Linked DNA regions of Homo sapiens. The main gene of each other region encodes a partner of the protein of the gene in region 3 in a complex. Each region holds a gene or a part of one and is shown on either strand. Other genes may lie near its edges.

What was found. Proteins that work in one complex are often made in the same cells at the same time.
Region 1: SNRPG (region 3) and LSM2 share a complex: the UniProt entries of both Homo sapiens proteins name them as parts of the U4/U6-U5 tri-snRNP complex.
Region 2: SNRPG (region 3) and ARMC7 share a complex: the UniProt entries of both Homo sapiens proteins name them as parts of the minor spliceosome.
Region 4: SNRPG (region 3) and DHX16 share a complex: the UniProt entries of both Homo sapiens proteins name them as parts of the minor spliceosome.

Annotation. Positions count from the first base shown.
Region 1 is NC_000006.12:31,800,467-31,803,966, reverse strand, and holds part of LSM2 (U6 snRNA-associated Sm-like protein LSm2), read left to right. Parts: intron 1-3,500. UniProt on the Homo sapiens protein: Plays a role in pre-mRNA splicing as component of the U4/U6-U5 tri-snRNP complex that is involved in spliceosome assembly, and as component of the precatalytic spliceosome (spliceosome B complex).
Region 2 is NC_000017.11:75,116,469-75,119,968, forward strand, and holds part of ARMC7 (armadillo repeat-containing protein 7), read left to right. Parts: intron 1-3,500. UniProt on the Homo sapiens protein: As a component of the minor spliceosome, involved in the splicing of U12-type introns in pre-mRNAs.
Region 3 is NC_000002.12:70,287,241-70,290,740, forward strand, and holds part of SNRPG (small nuclear ribonucleoprotein G), read right to left. Parts: intron 2,133-3,500; coding exon 2,110-2,132; intron 953-2,109; coding exon 828-952; intron 132-827; coding exon of another isoform or gene 21-131; exon of another isoform or gene 1-20. UniProt on the Homo sapiens protein: Plays a role in pre-mRNA splicing as a core component of the spliceosomal U1, U2, U4 and U5 small nuclear ribonucleoproteins (snRNPs), the building blocks of the spliceosome.
Region 4 is NC_000006.12:30,656,007-30,659,506, reverse strand, and holds part of DHX16 (pre-mRNA-splicing factor ATP-dependent RNA helicase DHX16), read left to right. Parts: coding exon 1-35; intron 36-2,414; coding exon 2,415-2,555; intron 2,556-2,747; coding exon 2,748-2,910; intron 2,911-2,997; coding exon 2,998-3,116; intron 3,117-3,241; coding exon 3,242-3,309; intron 3,310-3,500. UniProt on the Homo sapiens protein: Required for pre-mRNA splicing as a component of the spliceosome. Contributes to pre-mRNA splicing after spliceosome formation and prior to the first transesterification reaction.

The sequences.
Region 1 (3,500 bases), on a different chromosome or scaffold from region 3:
TTCCCAAAGTGCTGGGGTTACGCGCATGAGCCAGCACACCTGGCCCTGTACTTATCTGTACAGTCCTTTAAATAATATGTACATTTAGGCCAGATGCGGTGGCTCATACCTGTAATCCCAGCACTTTGGGAAGTCGAGGCGGGTGGATGCCTGAGGTCACGAGTTTGAGACTAGCTTGGCCAACATGGTGAAACTCCATCTCTACTAAAAATACAAAAATTAGCCAGATGTTGTGTTGTGCGCCTGTAATCCTAGCTGCTCAGGAGCCTGAGGCTGGAGAATCACATGAACCCGGGAGGCGGACGTTGTAGTGAGCTGAGATCAGGCCACTGCACTCCAGCCTGGGCGACAGACTGAGACTCCATCTCAAAAAAAAAAAAAAAGTACATTTAAAATATTGATACCTGTTACCTCATTATCCTTTAGAAAGATGGGATCAATTGTATTCTCTTCCCAAAAGCGTCTTCCACATTTATTTTTTTGAGATGGGGGTCTCACTCTGTTGTCCAGGCTGTAGTGCAGTGGCACCACCATAGCTCACTCAGCCTCCTGAATAGCTGGGGCTATATGCCACCATGCCCAGCTAATTTTTTAATTATTTGGAGAGGCAGAGTCTCACTGTGTTGCCGAGGCTAGTCTGAAACTCTTGGGCTCAAGCAGTCCTGCCACCTTGGCCTCCCAAAGTGCTGGAATTACAGGTGTGTGCCACTGTGTCTGGCTGTCTTCCACATTTCTATGTGAGATAATTTTTTCATGGGTTACACGTTGACAGGGCAGGGAATGGTGAGGAGAGGGACTTAAGGGCCTTTGCGTTTTAGAACACAGGTTTCCATTTGTAGCACTGGCAATGCAAGTGATATTGATGTGTATAGATTGGGGCCACAGAGCAAGACAAGTACGGTAATCACTATCAGTCTTAGGCAATTTGGTGTGATGACTTGTTTTTGATTCTCCTCTTTTCTCCTTCCTGGGCCTTTTACATGGGAAGCCTAACTGTTGTGTTATAACCCTAGGCCCTAAAGTACCTTTATTTTTTTTATTTTATTTTGTTTTTGAGACAGAGTCTTGCCCTGTCGCCCAGGCTGGAGTGCAATGGCGTGATCTCGGCTCACCGCAACCTCTGCCTCCCGGGTTCAAGTGATTCTCCTGCCTCAGCCTCCCTGGTAGCTGGGATTACAGGCATGCGCCACAACGCCTGGCTCATTTTTTGTATCTTCAGTAGAGACAGGGTTTCACCATGTTGGCCAGGCTGGTCTCCCAACTCCTGACCTCGTGATCTGCCCACCCCAGCCTCCCAAAGTACTGGGATTACAAGTGTGAGCCACTGCACCCGGCCGTAGTAACATTTCTTTTCTTTTTCTTTTTTCTTTTTTTTATTGAGACGAGTCTCGCTCTGGTCGAGTCTACGCCAGGCTGGAGTGCAGTGGTGCTGTAACCTCCGACTCCCTGGTTCAAGTGATTATCCTGCCTCAGCCTCCCGAGTAGCTGGGATTATATGCATGCACCACCACGCCCAGCTAATTTTTGTATTTTTAGTAGAGAAGGGGTTTCACCACGTTGGCCAGGATGGTCTCAATCTCCTGACCTTGTGATCTGCCCACCTCGGCCTCCCAAAGTACTGTGATTACAGGTGTGAGCCACTGCGCCCAGCCTTCTTTTTTTTCTATTTATTTATTTATTTTTGTTTGAGATGGGGTCTCACTCTGTCACCCAGGTTGGAGTGCAGTGGCATGATCTCGGGTCACTGCAACCTCTGCTGCCTGGGTTCAAGTGATTCTCCTGCCTCAGTCTCCCAAGTAGCTGGGATTACAAGTGCCTGCCACCATACCTGGCTAATTTTTGTATTTTTAGTAGACATCGGGTTTCACCATCTTCGTCAGGCTGGTCTTGAACTCCTGACCTCGTGATCCACCTGCCTCGGCCTCCCAAAGTGCTGGGATTACAGACGTGAGCCACTGCACCCGGCCTTTTTATATTATTTTTAAAATTTTTCATAGAGACAGAGTCTCGGCCGTGTTGCCCAGGCTGGTCTTGAACTCCTGGACTCAAGTGATCCTCCCACCTCAGCCTCTCAAAGTGCAGTGACTACAGGTGTGAGCCAATATGTGTGTGGCTTTAAAGTGACTTTTCTGTTGGGATGAGAAAGAAGATCTTTCTCCTTTTTTTTCCTTGAGACAGGGTCTCACTCTGTTGCCCTGGCTGGAGTGCGGTGGCGCGATCTTGGCTCACTGCAACCTCTGCCTCCTGGGTTCAAGTGATTCTTCCACCTCAGCCTCCCGAATAGCTGGGATTACCGGTGCATGCCACCACTCCCAGCTAATTTTTTGTATTTTTAGTAGGGATGGGGTTTCACCATGTTGGCCAGGCTGGCCTCAAACTCCTGACCTCAAGTGATCCTCCTGCCTCAGCCTCCCAAAGTGCTGGGATCACAGGTGTGAGCCACCACGCCTGGCCAAAAGTTCTTTCTCTTATGTTTGTTGTCAGACCACTTTTGTGCTATGTATCTCCCCCTCCTTAAGGGACTTAATAAAATGACACCACTTTGTACAATTCCCAAATGTTATTTCACTGCTGGAGATGGTGGGGTGCTGTCAAATGTTTTTCAGCAGCTAGCAATATGGTGAGAACATTACTGAGGCAGTGGGTTTCAGATACTGGGTGTTTGTTTTTGTTTTTGTTATTAGGCAGAGACTCACCCTCTGTCTCAAAAAAAATAATGATTGCCTAGTACTAGTTCATTTAAATTAATTTCCTAGAGCATATTTAAGTGGGTCTTTTTTTTTTTTTTTTTTTTTTGAGACAGATCCTTACTCTGTCACCGAGGCTGGAATGCAGTGGCATGATCTTGGCTCACTGCAACCTCTACCTCCTGTGTTCAAATGATTCTCGTGCCTCAGCCTCCTGTATACCTGGGACTACAGGCATGCACCACACACAGCTAATTTTTGTATTTTTATATTTTATTTTTAAATTTTTTTTTTCCTCCTGGGTTCAAGTGATTCTCGTGCCTCACCTCCTGAGTAGCTGGGATTACAGGTGCACACCACAATGCCCAGCTAATTTTTGTATTTTTTTTTTTTTGAGACGGAGTCTTGCTTTGTCACCCAGGCTGGAGTGTAGTGGTGTGATCTCCGCTCACTGCAAGCTCTGCCTCCCAGTTCACGCCATTTTTCTACCTCAGCCTCCCAAGTAGCTGGGACTACAGGTGCCCGCCACCATGCCCGGCTAATTTTTTGTATTTTTAGTAGAGACGGGGTTTCACCGTGTTAGCCAGGATGGTCTCGATCTCCTGACCTCGTGATCCACCCGCCTCGGCCTCCCAAAGTGCTGAGATTATAGGCGTGAGCCACCACGCCCGGCCAATTTTTGTATTTTTAGTAGAGATGGGGATTCGCCGTGTTGGCCAGGCTGGTCTTGAAGTCCTGGCCTCAAGTGATCCGCCCACCTTGGCCTCCTAAAGTTCTGGGATTATAGGCATGAGCCACCGCACATGGCCTAGA
Region 2 (3,500 bases), on a different chromosome or scaffold from region 3:
AATACAATTAGCTGGGTGCGGTGGCACGCGCCTGTAATCCCAGCTACTCAGGAGGCTGAGGCAGGAGAATCGCTTGAACCGAGGAGGTGGAGGTTGAGGTGAGCCAAGATCACGCCATTGCACTCCAGCCTGGGCAACAAGAGTGAAACTCCGTCTCAAAATAAATAAAGAGTACCAGACCTGAGACTTAAACCCAGAGCAGTCAGAGTCTACAAGCTAGTCCCTTGGCCCTTTTCCTGCCCTTAGAGGAGTTCCAATTCCTAGGATTGTGGAGCGAAAGCGAGAAAGGAGTTTACTCCAAATTGCTCATTTTATCAATAAGGAAGCTGCGGTGCAGACAGCTGCCCCTCGTCTGGCTGTCGCAGGCCAGGATGAGAATGCAGGCTTCCTTCCGTCTGTCCCTGCAGCCACCACACTCACAGGTACCCTTCCATGCTGGCTTTGCTGTGGCAGCTCTGAGTGAGGTCTGCTCTTTGGCCCAGCACTTCTGCCTCCTCTCTGAGGGCTGGAAGCTGGATGCTATCCAAACAAATGGATTCGCTCACCCTGCACACTAAGGCCAATTACTGACAAAAATCGCAGTGAGAAAGTGAGGCTTTGTTTTTGTTTTTGGTTTTGGTTTTTTTGAGACAGATTCTCACTCCGTTGCCCAGGTTGGAGTGCAATGGTGCAATCTCGTCTCACTGCAACCTCCGCCTACCTGGTTCAAGCAATTCTCCTGCCTCAGCCTCCTGAGTAGCTGGGATTACAAGCACCCGCCACCACACCCAGCTAATTTTTGTATGTTTAGTAGAGACGGGGTTTCGACATGTTGGCCAGGCTGATCTCGAACTCCTCACCTCAGGTGATCCGCCCGCCTCGGCCTCCCAAAGTGCTGGGATTACAGGCGTGAGCCACTGTGCCCAGCCAAAAGTGAGGCCTTTATTGTGGGGCGACAAGCAAGAAGAATCCGGCAGCTCATGCTTAAGACCCAAATTCCCAGATGGCTTATGGTTAAGGGTGTTCAAAGGCAGGAGGCAGAGGTTACAGACAAAGTTTTAAATCAACACCAGGAGGCTATATATTGGTTTGGCCTAAGAAGGCAGGATGTCTCCAAGGGATGGGGCACAGATCATAGGTGGCTTCAAAGATTTTCTGATTTGTGAGTGGTTAAGGAGGTGAAGCTTTGTCTACAAATTTGGCATCAGCAAAAAAGAATGTTAGCTATAACCTGTGGGCATGTCCTCCAGGCCCCTCAGGGAGTCTAAAGAGTGGTCAGAGTGTAGTTTTCAGTTCCCCTTATCTGAGGTCTCAGTGCCAGGGGAATTGTTTGTTGAGGGTCCAGATTTCTGAAAAGCAACTCAAGGACAGATATTAAGATGTTATCTTTAGGCCGGGTGTGGTGGCTCACACCTGTAATCCCAGCACTTTGGGAGGCTGAGGCGGGTGGATCACTTGAGCTCAGGAGTTCAAGACCAGCCTGGCCAACATGGTGAAACCCCGTCTCTACTAAAAATACAAAATCTAGCTGGGTGTGGTGGCAGGAGCCTGTAATCCCAGCTACTCTGGAAGCTGAGGCAGGAGAATCGCTTGAACCCAGGAGGCAGGCAGAGGTTACAGTGAGCCAAGATCGTGCCACTGCACTCCAGCATGGGCGACAAAGCAAGACTGTCTCAAAAAAAAAAAAAAAACAAAGTTATCTTTAGTTTCTATGGGGAAACCAGACATCCCCTGATTCTGACTTCCTTGGCTATTGTTTTAAGCTAACTATTACCTTCTTGCTTATCGAGTTGCTCACTTGCTTCTCAGGGCTAGCTAGGTGCCTGGAATTTCATGAAGGGACTCAAGATTTTCCTTTATTTCCATGCTTGGGGGCCTGCAGGCCCCTAGAGAAGCCCCTGCTCTCTCTCCATGTCAGCCAGGGCTTCAGTCTGGCCTCAAGTGTTCCCATCAGCGGTGGCAGTGGAACTACAGTGGCAGCAACCACTTGCCAACAGGGGCCTGGCCTCACTCACCGTCGTCTCTGTGTGGCGGTCTCTTTCTCCTGTGGCTTCCTCTCAGTTGCCCGCCGTCGGCACCGCCACAGCCATGAGGAAGGATCCGGCTACAGCGACCGCGGAGAACACGCACGGGTTTTCAAGTCTCTGGCCTCTTTTGTGGCCTCTTGTGGATCTGCCCATTTAGAGCAATTGTAGAACTAGTTTATTGACCCTTTCTGTGCTTCTGGCTGCCTTTTCTGCCCAGGGTCCAGGGCTCCTGTTTGGGTGCTGTTGGGATAAAAGCTGCCTCTCCTGGATGCCCGCCCAGTGCACACCATGTGCTCGCCACACGCCCACCTGAACCAGCCTGTCCACAAGGCCTCTGAATCGGTCATGAACGGCAAGGCCGATGGTTCTAACCCCTTTGTACATATCGGGAACCCCCACCACCAAGTGAGGGCAAGTCCACTGCCTGGGGCTCCCGCTGTTAGTGATAACTGGAGCCAGGACTTCGCCCCTGTCATCCAGGATCCAAATTCTGTGCCCTGGGAACCCAGCTGGCACCAGGCTCAGACTCTAGTCCCTTGTTCTGGCCTCAAACTCCTGGGCTCAAGTGATCCTCCGACCCCAGCCTCCCAAAGTGCTAGGATTACAGGCATGAGCCACTGCACCCAGCCCCAGTGGCAGTTCCTCTATGACACTGGTACACTGGACTGTACACTGGTACACTGGTACACTGGACTGGTACACTGGACTATTCACAGGGGATTATTTGTTCTTGGGTTTTCCTTCAGTGTCTTGAAAATGGCTCCTTCAATTTCAAGTCTGAAGGACAGACAGTACATAGAGTAAGCTACCCTTTGTGTGAGAAGGCAGGGTGGAGATGAACACACCTCTGTGTATGCACTCACGCTGGCAAGACACAAAAGTGTAATAAGGAAATGGGTTAGTACGAGGCAGGGAACAAGGTAGAAGGGACCAGAATGGTGGTGAGACTTCTGAAAATACCCTGTGATACAGTTTTTTCTTTTTTTTTTTTTGAGACGGAGTTTCGCTCTGTCGCCCAGGCTGGAGTGCAGTGGCGCGATCTCGACTCACTGCAAGCTCCGCCTCCCGGGTTCACGCCATTCTCCTGCCTCAGCCTTCCCAGCAGCTGGGACTACAGGCACCCGCTACCACGCCCAGCTAATTTTTTTTGTATTTTTTTTTTTTTTTAGTAGAGACAGGGTTTCACCGTGTTAGCCAGGATGGTCTCGATTTCCTGACCTTGTGATCCGCCTGCCTCGGCCCTCTCAAAGTGCTAGGATTACAGGCGTGAGCCACCACGCCCAGCCTGCTGTGAAGACTTTGACCCTGGGCTGCTTCAGCTCAGCATGGGCGAGTCCCCAGATGTAGCTGTATTTTGAGCTGCCCTTGCCGAGGGCCTGCCCAGCCACCAGGTGCCAGGTGCCAGCTAAGCACTTGTCAGAAGCATCACCTCGTTTTGTTTTGTTTTTGAGATGGAGTCTCGCCCTGTTGACCAGGCTGGAGTGCAGTGGCATG
Region 3 (3,500 bases):
AGGCTAATAATTAGCAACTCTTACCACTCCTTGGAGGTCTTTATGCTTAATAATTTGCTAAAAGTAAGTTGTCCTTTTTGGTTCACCTTTTTCAAGAACTTTGGGCTTACCGCTTTATTAGGTATGTTGTCCTGTGTTAGACAAAGAGGGACTCAAAGTCTGGGTATCAAAACTCTTCTTCAGCAATCACTAAAACTACGGCCCAATGAATGTAGGAATGTTTAATCCTATGAGGGCTCAGTATGTGCTTATTTTTTCCTGCTTTTTCTCTCATGTGAATAACTGTCATTGTGATTATCCCTTGTAACTTTTACCTTGGCTACCTTAAAATTTTGGGTGTGGTAAACCAGAAAATCCAGGTTAACTATGTATACAAGTAAAATCAGAAAGTGTTACCTGTGAACTGGCAGATCTGCATTAGGCATTAGTAGAAATGCAAAACCTTAGTTAAGTTCTGCCCCATACCTACTGAAGTAGAATCTTCATTTTAAGAAGATTCCCTGGGGATTCATATACACATTAAGGTTTCAGAACTACTGCTCTAATGAAGGACCAACTATGAGCCTCTATTGCAGAATAAAGCTCAAAAAGGATTTCCAACAGCTATTTCAAGCGCTAGGACCTTAGGTTCTGTATAGTTGAGATCTTACCTACAGGTAACCAGGATATTACTACAGCTGAGTAACTGCCGTATGCAACTAAAAAGGAGATGGAAAGTCTAATCTTGCCTGTTATTTGCCATTTCTGGGGGTTACTAACCAGGAAAGTTAATACACATTCCAAAAGAAAAATGAAATCTCCAAGAGAACTCTTGTATCTTTACTTACCACCATTCCAATATTGTTCTGTTGTCCACTAGTCGCCATCTCCACACATTCATCTATCACAAGGTTCATAAAGGGATCAAATCCCCGCAATATTCCTTGGACATGTCTGCCACCATTTAATTTCACTATTAAAAAGAGAAAAAGAAGTTTTAGAAAAACATTCCATTAGCTACCAAGCATTCACTAAAAATCAGGTGGGATAAAACACAAGTATTTGAGATGTCTGAAACCCACTATCCTTACTGTATGACAAGAACTGGGTTAAACATTTTTGTATTTACTTCCACATTTTAATTTATAAGAATCCTAAAAAGTAGTATTATCCTTACTTTATAGGACAGAACTAAACTTCAGAGCTTTTTTAAAATTTTTATAAAGATGGGGGCTCCCTATGTTGCCCAGGCTGGTCTCGAACTCCTGGGCTCAAGGGATCCTCCCGCTTTGGCCTCCCAAAGTGCTGGGGGATTATAGGTGTAAACCACCGTGCCCGAGCTTTTAAGTAACTGGGTTCATGGTTATACAGCTACTGTACGACAGAAGTGAGATTCAAGCTGAAGGCTGCTTACCTCTAACGCTCATGGTTTTTTCCCCTACATATATTTCAAGTACTGTGTGGGTCAGATTTTTAGATAAATTGAACAAATGTTATTCCTACATATTCCCAAGAAACAAGATAACTGTTCCTTGTCTAAGTCCTTTGTAGCTTGTTTAAAGAAAAAAGGTTGATAAATCCTGTTAATTTTGCCAAAGTGAGGAAGGGCTTACATAAGATAAAGTCTGAAGTGCTGTTAAATTAATTATCAGAAATTAGGTAAATAAAATTGTCTAGTTAGGATTAAGTAATCTGCTTAACTAACGGATGTGAATTAGAGGTCCTGTGTGCTTTAAATTTTTTTTTTTTGAGACGGAGTCTAGCTCTATAGCCCAGGCTGGAGTGCAGTACCGCCATCTTGGCTCACTGCAAACTCCGCCTCCTGGGTTCATGCCATTCTCCTGACTCAGCCTCCCGAGTAACTGGGACTACAGGCGCCCGCCACTGCACCCGGCTAATTTTTTTTTGTATTTTTAGTAGAGACGGGGTTTCACCGTGTTAGCCAGGATGGTCTTGATCTCCTGATCTCACGATCCGCCTGCCTCGGCCTCCCAAAGTGCTGGGATTACAGCCGTGAGCCATCGCGCCTGGCTGCTTTAAATTTTTATAAAGTTGCTCCAAACATTGCTAAGACACATGTAAAAAGCAATTAAATAATTAAAAAAAACCCCAAAACAACAACAAACTTACATGATAACTTCTTGTCCATAAATCTGAAAAAGGAAAAGGGTAAAGATTATATAACCAATTAAAAAAATTTAAGCATAAACAAGTAAATAGGTATAGTTAAGATAATTTGCTAAAATTTATACAATGGGAATAATGAAATCTAAAATAGTAAAAATAATGTATTGCTGTAAAGAGTGAGGGAGTAGGGCGAGGTAGCTCACGCCTGTAATCCCAGCACTTTAGGGGGCTGAGGCGGGTGGACTGCTTGAGCTCAGGAGTTGAGACCAGCCTGGGCAACATGGTGAAACCCCATCTCTACCAAAAATACAAAAATTAGCTGGGGGTGGTGGCACATGCCTATGGTTCCAGCTACTTGGGAGGCTGAGGTCGGAGAATCACTGGAGCCTGCCACGTTGAGGCTGCAGTGAGCCATGATTGCGCCACTGCACTCCAGCTTGGGCAATAGAGCGAAACTGTCTCAGGGGAAAAAAAGAGTGGGGGCGTAAAGGGTTACCTAAATTAGACATTCTAGGAAGCAAAGTAATTTGGGAAGAGGAAAGGCAATAAAAATGAAACATATTTAGACTATATTAATTTACATTAAGTAGAGTATACTAATGTGAATTACATTCTTATTGTTCAATACTACGTTGTTTCATTGACCTAAATTTCTTTCTTTTTTTTTTTTTTTTTAAGAGATGGGAGTCTCATTATGTTGCCCAGGCTGGTCCTGAATTCCTGGCCTCGAAAAATATACTCCCCCTCAGCCTCCCAAAGTGCCGCTGGGATTACACAGGCATGAGCTACCACATCTGGTCTCATTGACCTAATTTTCAATGACTGGATTTTATAGTCACAAGAGAAAAACAAAGACTTGCCTATGTTTGGTTATTTCCAAAACTAAGTTGTAAAGACAGCAAACAGTAATCAAATCATATCCAATTCAATAGGTATTTTATATTTGAAATAAGTAGTGTTCTTTTATTTAATATTAAAGCATCAAGCATAAATGTTCAGGGTAGTCCTCAACATTTAAGTATATTTTAGAATAATAAATGCACATTTGAAACTTCAAACGATATGAATTAAAAAAAAATTCCATTTTAGTGGAATACGAGATTAAGCCATGCAGTCAAATCAGTTTTTAATTTCTTCCATATAGGCCAGAAAACATAAAATTTCATTCAATTTTAAAAATTTCATTCAAATTTTAAAATATAAAAAAATGAAAAAAAGATGTTTAGTATATGGGCCACGAAGTGGGGCACTTATTCAATTTTAATGTATAGGATTATCATGGGAAAATGTAAATATAAAACAAGGAGCATGACTGAAGGAGGGAGTAGATACATTTACAAGTAAAAATATATTTATGGGCTGGGCGCGGTGGCTCATGCTTGTAATCCCAGCAC
Region 4 (3,500 bases), on a different chromosome or scaffold from region 3:
GTATCTTCCAGCCCACACCACCTGGGGCACGAAAGGTCAGTTGGAGAAACCCACACTCTTCACCCCTATGCTTCCCACAACTAGTAGTGAAAAAGCTGTGTGCCTGCCCCATGCAAGGTGAGTCCTGCGCACTGCTGCACACAGCTGAGGAGCAGCCAGTCCCTTGTTCCTGGGACTGAAGAGAGGAGAAATATGGTGTGAACCAAGAGAGAGCCAAATATGTGATCTGGAAAGTATGCACAGTAGATTCAGTGGAGAAGGGAAGTCCTTGATGTGCTAAGAGGTGGGATTTGATATGGACCTTTAAGAGAAATGTCTGAGGTCAGGTGCGGTGGCTCACGCCTGTAATCCCAGGACTTTCGGAGGCTGAGGTGGGCGGATCACTTGAGGTCAGTAGTTCGAAACCAGGCTGCCTAACGTGGTGAAACCCTGCCTCCACTGAAAATACAAAAATCAGCAGGGCATGGTGGCGTGCGCCTATAATCCCACCTGTTTAGGAGGCTGAGTCATGAGAATCGCTTGAACCCAGGAGGAGGAGGTTGCAGTGAGCTGAGATTGTGCCACTGCACTCCAGCCTGGGTGACAATGCGAGACTCCATCTCAAAAAAGAAAAATGGCTGAGAAGTCATCAGAGGAAGGCCCAAGGTATGTTTGAGGTCAGAGTGTGAGCTAGTAGGCTTAGTGGGAGGTTCATGTGGTGAAGGAGTAGGAGACAAGGCTAAAAACAATTTGGGGCTAAGATTAGGGAGGGCCTTTGATGACAGGAAAGTTTGGACTTTATTTATTTTTCTTTTTTGAGACAGAGTCTCGCTCTGTTGCCCAGGCTGGAGTGCAGTGGCAAGATCTCGGCTCACTGCAGCCTCCACCTCCCAGGCTCAAGTGATTCTTGTGCCTCAGCTTCCCAAGTAGCTGGGATTACAGGTGTGTACCACCACCCCAAGCTAATTTTTTTTTTTTTTTTTTTGAGATGGAGTCTCACTCTGTCGCCCAGGCTGGAGTGCAGTGGCACCAACTCTGCTCACTGCAACCTCTGCCTCACAGGTTCAAGCGATTCTCCTGTCTCAGCCCCCCAGTAGCTGGGATTACAGGTGCCCTCCACCACGCCTGGCCAATTTTTTGTATTTTTAGTAGAGATGAGGTTTCGCTATTTTGGCCAGGTTGGTCTCAAACTCCTGACCTCAGGTGATCTGCCCACCTTGGCCTCCCAAAGTGCTGGGATTATAGGCGTGAGCCACCATGCCTGGCCAACACCCAGCTAATTTTTAGTAGAGATGGGGTTTCGCCATGTTGGCCAGGCTGGTCTTGAACTCCTGGACTCAAGTGATCCGCCTGCCTTGGCCTCTCAAAGTGCTGGGTTACAGGCATGAGCCACTGTGCTTGGCGAAGTTTGGACTTTAGACAGCTGAGTAGCAGTCAAAGGATTTTGAGCAGAGATATAACTTTCATTCAACAAATATTTAATGAGTTCCTTCTGTGTGTCAGGTACACAGGGGTTGATGATACAGTGATGAACAAAACAAAGTCCTTAGCCTAACAAACTTGCACTTGTGGTCTATCGGGGAAGCAGTGGATGCATAAATACATATTGTCAATTTGTGGCCAGTGCTATGAAGAGATACAAGGCAGCATAGTAGGATGGAACTTGACTCTGTGGGGTGGGAGTGAGGACTGGCATGAAGGTATTTTCCTTGGGGTGTAGGGAGGGCCTCTTCAGTAAGGGGAAAGTGGAATAGAGACCCAAACCAGGTGAGGGAGGGAGCCAGGCTGATATCTGGGAGAAGAGTATGCCAGACAGAGGGAATAGCTGATGCAAATGATCCAGTGAGGAGTGCACTTACTTGGGCAGAGCAAAGCAGTGTGTGGGAGGAGTGAGGGAGGTGGTGGAGTGCTAGCAGATGAGGTCAGAAAGGCAGCTGGGGTAGGTGATCCAGGCTTTTAAGGGGCTTGGATTGAATTCTAGAGTAGGATAGGAAGCCACTGAAGGATGGGGAGTGATGTGACAGGTTTGTATTTTAAAAGGACCATCCTGGATGCCATGTGACAGAGGCTAGGAGCAGAAGCAGGGATACACGTTAGGAGGCTCTTACAGGAAGTGTTGTGTGAAGACGAAAGCGGTGATGGGGAGGATCGGGCAGGAACTTGAACACCCCCATTTCCCATCTCTGAAAAAAAAAAAAAACCCTAAATCCTCTTCTCCATTTCCTTTCCTCCTATGGCCCTGCTGACTCCCAGCCCCCACTTCCCTGTCCCCTGTCTTCTGGCCTTGTCCCCTGCTCCTGACCTTGGATACTACTAATTCCCTCAGCTCCTGCCCCTTACTGCAACTGCTTCACTACTCCTAACTTTCCAAGATTACTTTTTCTGGGTAACTAGGTAGGTGGGGTCACTGGGTGACCCCATATCCTATCACTCAGGTGGTTGTGGCAACGAACATTGCTGAGACATCACTCACCATTGAGGGCATCATTTATGTGCTGGATCCAGGGTTCTGTAAGCAGAAGAGCTACAACCCCCGCACAGGCATGGAATCGCTCACTGTCACACCCTGCAGCAAGGTCAGCCTGGGGATGCATGGGAGTGGGGGAGGTGGAGTTGGCCCACAGAGAAGGTCCAACTCAGAAGCAGGGTGGGGGCTTCCTAGGGAACCGGGATGAGCAGTTTGCATCCTTCCAGATTTCTTGCATAAATACTGCCTTTTTCTTTTCCCTGACCAAATTGTCAGCCAGCCTGTTCCCCTTTCTTTCCAGGCCTCAGCCAATCAGCGAGCTGGCAGGGCAGGTCGGGTGGCTGCAGGGAAGTGCTTCCGCCTGTATACCGCCTGGGCCTATCAGCACGAGCTTGAGGAAACCACAGTGCCTGAGATCCAGAGGACCAGCTTGGGCAATGTCGTGTTGCTGCTCAAGAGCTTAGGTGATTGGGCTACCTGAGAGAGGAGGGAGGGGCTGGAGTCACTGTCCTTTGAAGGGACTCTGTTCCATCCATCACACCTCTTTCTAGGGATCCATGACCTAATGCACTTTGATTTCCTGGACCCTCCACCATATGAGACACTGCTGCTGGCTTTGGAGCAGCTGTATGCTCTGGGAGCCCTCAACCACCTTGGGGAGCTCACCACGGTGAGTCGGGGGACAGCATGGGTGGAGGCAGGATGATAGGGGTCAGGATGGCTCCAGGGACCCCTGTAGTAGTAGCGGGAAACCTGAGGGAGGACTGGGCTCAACTCTCTCTCTCTTCTCCTTAGTCTGGTCGAAAGATGGCAGAGCTGCCGGTGGACCCCATGCTGTCCAAAATGATCTTAGCCTCTGAGAAGTAAGCCCTCGCCTCCACCTGGGCCCCCAGCACACAAACAGGCCAGGCCTCCTCTGTCTCCAGGGTCCCCTTTGTCTGTCTTTTTCTGTTCATCATACTATCCCTTAACACATAATAAAGTATTAGATAACTCTGATTGCCCCCTTTTGAGGCCCACAAGGGTAAGACACTTGATCCTATCCTTGATTCCA